2 linked regions of the Homo sapiens genome follow. The protein of the gene in region 2 purifies or fractionates together with the protein of the main gene of each other region. This does not show direct contact. Each region holds a gene or a part of one and is shown on either strand. Other genes may lie near its edges.

Region 1 (2,718 bases), on a different chromosome or scaffold from region 2:
TGGTACTTTTTGAGCTCCAGATATTCCGGGGTCAACTTGTGCTGTGTGGGAGCAAACAAGAGCAAAGGCATCAGAATACTCTGGTGCAACAGTCTTCTCTCTCCCTATATACATTTCACCTATTGCTCTCCTGAGTATCATGAGTCAAGTCTGAATAACTGCCAATGACCCTCTCTCACTTTGGAGAGTGGCTATCACATTAACAGCTGCGTTCCTGACTTAAAATTCCTTCATTAAGCTCCTGACTTAATGCAAGAGAAGCTGTTCACTTTTTAATAAAAGGATGGGGGAGTTGGAAAACAATTTGTGATAACTAATGATAATAACTAATATTTCTAAAGTGACTTTCATTTCATCTAGTTGAATTCAACCTGGAATTGGTCTGGAGTTTCTGTTGATTCTCTTTTCTAAAAAAATTATTTTTATTTTTGTAGAGATGGGGTCTATGTTGCCAGGCTGGTCTCAAACTCCTGGCCTCAAGCAATCCTCCTACCTTGGCCTCCCAAAGTGTCGGAATCAAAGATGTGAGCCACTGCACCCAGCCTTTTTTTTTTCTGGAGATGAGATCTCACTCTGTTGCCCAGGCTGGAATACAGTGGTTCAATTATAGCTCGCTGCTGCAGCCTCAAACTTCTGGGCTCAAGAGATACTCTCATCTTAGCCTCCAGGGAGGCTACAGGAATGAGCCATCATGCCTGGTTCTCTGTTGATTCTCTTGAGAGAGATACACAGGTCAGTGGATGAGAGCAGAACTTCAAAGGAAGGGCTGGTGCTCATTATCTTATCATTAGCTGTGATTCTGCTTTTCTTGAACAAATTCTAGAACTAGAATAAAATCTCAAGTTGTCACCTGATCTGGCCTTCTGCCTTTCCCCAGAAGCTGGATGTTTAAGCTGCTTGTGACAGACAGATGTTTGTCGACCACCAGATCTATGTGACAGTGTTTTGTTTAAATCAGGATGCCAAGATGTATCTAACCAGAACCTATCTGGGTTTGATTAAAACTCGTCGACCACCAGATCTCCCTCTGTCACACTGTTTTGTTTTGTCTAAATCAGGATGCCAAGATGTATCTAACCAGAATCTATCTGGATTTGATTAAAACCCATTTCCACTGTTCCCTGTAACATATGCCTTTCAAAGCCCCTCAGACCCTGCTCTGTGATCCTCTCCTTATCTTGAGTCCTGGCCTGTCCCCCAGGCAAAAGTCCATCTTGTCCTTCACAGTCCTACAGCATTTATTTTCTACACTTTGACATCTTTCACTCTTTGGATCTCTATCTTCTCCAGGTGATTCATATCCTCTGTCGAAACACTCCAATCAAATCTGGTCATAGTGCACAACCACATTTCTTCCTCAAGCCTTTTTAATATAGGTTAGTATCTGAGTCACATTTTTCAAAATGGCATAAAACTACTGCCCCTTTCTGAATAAGGTAGACCTCAATGGCAAGGTCTTGAAACTTGTGCCTGACGAGCTTCTCCCATTAGATTTGGACTCCTAGTTTCCTCAACTGGAGTTTCCTGTCATGCCTTTCTTTTGGCCAAATTCCATTCTGTGTCTATAGAACTGTGTCTTTCAATGTTATGTTCATTTTAAAATTTATATTGGTTTTCAAAGTACTGACAACTCTCATTCTATCATCTTATCATTTCTTCTAAATACGGATTATGTTGTTCCTTTCTAAATTAAAAGCCCTGTCTATATCTTAAAACTTGACTCTAATCCTTCAAACTGCATCATCCACTTTAGTAATCTCTTTCTCAACCCTTTATCTGTTCCAATCTGCTCCACGATAACCTTATAAATCTTGGACATACCCTTCCCTTCTCAGAATACTATCGGAGTTCTAGCTGCCTCTTAAATAGCCCCTGCTCACTAGCCCTGTACCGTCTAGCCAGCTTACCCCAGTCCTTACACCAAATTATCACCTATATATCACCCAACCTGCCTTCTCAAGTTATCCCACATGAAATTCCTCATGACTGGAATAGTTTTTTAAATCCAATAAACAAGGAGTACTCAACAAGGGGCATATGGAAATACATGCATGTGTGTGTGGCAGTTAAAACAACTGGTGACCACTACTGACATTCAGTAGACAAGGGCCAGGGATACAAAATATCCTACAATGCATGAGATGGTCTTCAACAATGAAAAAGTATCTCAACCCCAAATGCCAGGAATGCCTTTGATGAGAAATACTGCTCTAATCAAGCTAAGTATCTACCAAAAAAACTACCTTATTTGGAAAGCAATTCTAAATAGACTTTACTCTTCTGTCACTCTTATTTCAGAAGACCTTCAACTTAATTAATTATTCAGCCTTATATAGCAGTACAAATGAATGGAATTACGGCATTTGGCCTGTGTCCCTACCCAATCAATGTGAAATATTTCTTGCTAACTGACTAATTCTGGAGGATGTCTTGGTCACTACACTTTCTTGACAATGGATAAAATCACTTCTATCATATCAGAGCTCCTGAAAAGAGAAAGCAAAACCCCGAAATGCATCATTAGGAAAGTGGCCAGGGAGCCAGTCACCTTGTTTGAGGTGGCATATTTGTGTGCAGCATAATATTCAGCATCTGCTTTCGCTTTCTCTCGGGCCAGGAATGCAGCATCTAGCAAATAAACAAAGGAAAGGTGTCAATCCATTCCCTCAGCTAGTTAAGAGTCCCTTTCCCCACTGCTTAATATTGTGACTGCTTATT
Region 2 (3,500 bases):
AACACCATCGCTAACATGAGCAGTGAGTGTCCCATGTTCAGCTAAGGCCAGCAAGACCCATCCCCAGGGCATGAACAAAACGAACAGTCCCTAAATTAAAGACGGGGAGGGATGAGTGTGGGGTGGGGTGCAGCCGCCTGTGACTGCCATGCCACACCAGCGCCAAGGTAAAGGATGTGAAGGGAGAGCACGCCTTCCCCTTCCTGCCAGGGGAGGCCATGGTGGCCCAGCCCTGGCCTGGGTCCTTGAATTCCACCCCATCCTAGCCATTGAGGTCACAATTCTGACTCAAGTCTGCATTGCATGCACCAAGTCTTAAAGGGTCCTCTTATTTCCTGAAGAGGACTGGGTGGGGGGGGTTTTATCTGCATTGACTTCTCGTTCTTACATATGCAGGGCAGATGAGCCCCTGGTGTGCAGTCCTCTGCCCAGCTCCGGAGACCCGCTTCACTGGCCTGCGTCAGCTGCCGCACAGGCGGCTGGGGCAAGAATACAGCTGGGGTGTCTGGGGCAGCCCCTGATTTGTCTCCAGGTGCTTAAGCACGGCTCCACATCTGTATTTAAGAACTGTGACATGGGTGTGTCTAGTTGTGGGCTTTTTAGGCTGCTTCTTCCTTGGGGGACGGCTGGCCTCATGGCATTTCGTCTCAGGCAGGTGTTCTCAGGGACTGCACATACAGCTTTGGTTCTGAGTGTTCTGACACCTGTTTTAGGAGCACTTTCAAGTCACAGGCCAGGCTCTCTGCCTCCATCGCAGAGGCCTCCCCTCCTGTTCTGCTCCCTGAGTCTCCAGCCTTAGAAGGCTGTGCTCTCCCCTCCCCAGGCAGGGTTAAATCTGCAGGGCAGTGGGTGCCTTCAGTGGCACTGCCAGTCTCCCTGGGCTCTCTCTTGTCACCTATACTGCTGTCCCCTCATACCAGCCTCTTGCTGTGTCTTCTGTTCCTCCTGACGGTGCTGGCCCTCTAGAGTCTGAGACCCCAGAGCATGACTTCCATCATAGCCTCTGCTGCACTCCCCTGAAGCAGGACCCCACCCTGCCCTCATGGGGCCCTGGTGAGCCTGGTTCCTGGCTGCACCGTGGAGGCCAGCAGGCACTGAGGGGACCTGTGTGTCATGGTGAGTGGCTCAGGGGAAGCCCCAGGCTTAGTCAGGGCAGAGCTGTCCTAAGCTGTAACTCTGTGAGGCTTACTGATCTATGTGAAAAGAGGTACCATAGACAGGACAGGCGGAGGCTAAGTGGCCCCAGCCTGAGTCATGTGGCTGAGCCTCATGGAGCTGGAGGGCTGACCTGCTGAGCCCTGCCCTCTACAGAGGCACAACAGAGACGCCGACACTTTGCAGAATGGCGATGTGCAGGAAGACACAGCCACATTTGCCCCTCTCCCCATGGTCAGCCTGGCTGTGTCCCCTCCTCACTGGCTTCTCCTACTTTAGTTTCAGGTCCCAGGACAAGGGCCTCTGCATTTTGAGGGCAAACCTCGCAGTGGGCTCCCAGTTTAGGAGAAACTGGGCCATGGCGAAATCTATCCCCTCCTTGCCAGTATCGCCCGTGGGACCATGACAGCCTCTCTCTCCTGGGACTTATCAGAACAATATGAGGAGACAGAATGGAAGGCAAATGTCAACTGGAAGAAATTTCACCCATTTGTCCACAAAAAGGCTCTGAATGGGATAAGACAGGGAGAGCATAGCTCTGGAAATGAAAAGCTTTCTCTGAAGCAAGGCAGGGCTAGGCCTTCGGTGAAGCCATTCACAAAAGTAGGTGCACTCTATCCACCCTGAACCCCTCCCAGCCCTGGCACACCATGACCCTGTTTACAATGCATACAAAACAGCTCCCATGTTCAGAAACATGGTCTTGCAAACAGCTACTCTTCACATGCACAGATAAAGGTATCCAAAGTGTGCCACAAACTTGCCAGGGATAGAAATAAGTCCTGTACCCCTGTGTAAGGACATTTCCTTGGAGAATGAAGATCTAATGGTCCATGTGGCTTCGAAGGGGTTCACACCATTCGCATTGGTGTATGGGGTGTCTGTTTGCACAGGCATCAAAGACAATGCCCAGGAAGTTGGCTCACCTCACTGGCTCTTATGTTCCTCATTGGTACAATGGGAACAGTAACACCGCTTGCCCCATAGAAGAACAGAATTGCATGCTGTGAAGTGCAGCTCTCATAGCAACCTAGCCATCAGTGTGAGAAACCGAGGTGGGGCCAGGGTCTGGAGTGGGGTGAGCTTGCAGAAAGGCTGGGTTACTGGAGGCACTTGGCAGAGAAGAGCTGAGGATATGCTGGGGTGGTGGAACTGCCAACGTAGGGCTTGGAGGGTGGGACCTTACCTTAAAGGGTCCCTCCCTCTACAGCGTAAGCTCTGATATCATTCGAGACCTAGTTCAGACCTCGCCCAGCCTCAGTGGTGCCTCCTCCTCAGGCATGTTAGGGCATTAGCGAGTCTGCATAATCATGGTGTCTCTTCAACAAGGAGCTGGCAGATGTCTGAGGCTGGGACTCTTGGTCTAGTGGAAAGAACACAGGTTCTGGGATCAGACAAACCTGGGGCAAGGCGCTGGCTTTGTCACTTTCCACTGTGTGGTCGGTGCATCAGGTATGGGGGAGGACCCCACCCCACAGAGCTGTTGAGAGGATGGCAGGAGAATGGCAGGTGATGCCCAAGACGGCCCGGTCAGAACATGCTCAGTAACGCAGTGTGGCCCTGAAGGAATCATTGGCATTCAGTAAATAGGACCACAGAAGACCCCACATCCAGCCTCCTGATGGCCCTGAGAATGTGATGGCCACAGACAAGGCACATGGGTCCTGGTCCCTGGCAAGCAGGCCGCATAGGTCTGCCTGACTCCCAGAGCCCCCACCCTGTCGGCTGAGACCACAGACACAGCAGAGTCCAGAGGCCCCATGTGGTTCCTTCCCAACCCCTGTGCCTGAGCGGGCCTCTCCCACTGACCACCTCTCCTGGACCTTCTCCATTCCCCGCACTCCATCCAAAACACATTCATCTCTCAAAATATGGAAAAGCTTTTCAAATCGAAACCCCCTTTTGCCTCCATCTCCGTCCCAGGCCACAGCAGCTTCTCCTTGCTTAGAGAGGTGCTGCCTGGGGCTCCCCCTGCCCCACTCCCCTGGGCCCCATGCCGAGCCTCACTGCTCAGCTGACGGCACCTGCCTGGCCCTCACTGCCTCTCTGGCCACTTACTCTGGTTCTCTTCTGCTGGACCCTGGGCCTCTGCCTGTGTGCGAGCTCCACCTGTGGCCCCTGCCCTTGTCCCCTCAGCACACCAGCATGGTGCCCAGCTCAAGACCTGCTGTCCCCTGCCTGCCATGCAGCCCAGCAGGTGGCCATGGGCCCACATGGACCAGATGTGGCTAGCCCTCATCCCAACATCTCCTCCTCCTGAATTTCAGTTGGGTCGGCAGCACCAACACCCAGCTGGTCCAGCTGCACACCCAGAGCACCCAACTTCTCCAGCCCCCATGCCCACA

The links.
Region 1: the proteins of CHCHD6 (region 2) and ERLIN1 fractionate together in Homo sapiens (co-fractionation; one large-scale study listed by BioGRID). This does not show direct contact.

Annotation. Positions count from the first base shown.
Region 1 is NC_000010.11:100,152,312-100,155,029, forward strand, and holds part of ERLIN1 (erlin-1), read right to left. Parts: intron 2,629-2,718; coding exon 2,549-2,628; intron 42-2,548; coding exon 1-41. UniProt on the Homo sapiens protein: Component of the ERLIN1/ERLIN2 complex which mediates the endoplasmic reticulum-associated degradation (ERAD) of inositol 1,4,5-trisphosphate receptors (IP3Rs).
Region 2 is NC_000003.12:126,952,240-126,955,739, reverse strand, and holds part of CHCHD6 (MICOS complex subunit MIC25), read right to left. Parts: intron 1-3,500. UniProt on the Homo sapiens protein: Component of the MICOS complex, a large protein complex of the mitochondrial inner membrane that plays crucial roles in the maintenance of crista junctions, inner membrane architecture, and formation of contact sites to the outer membrane.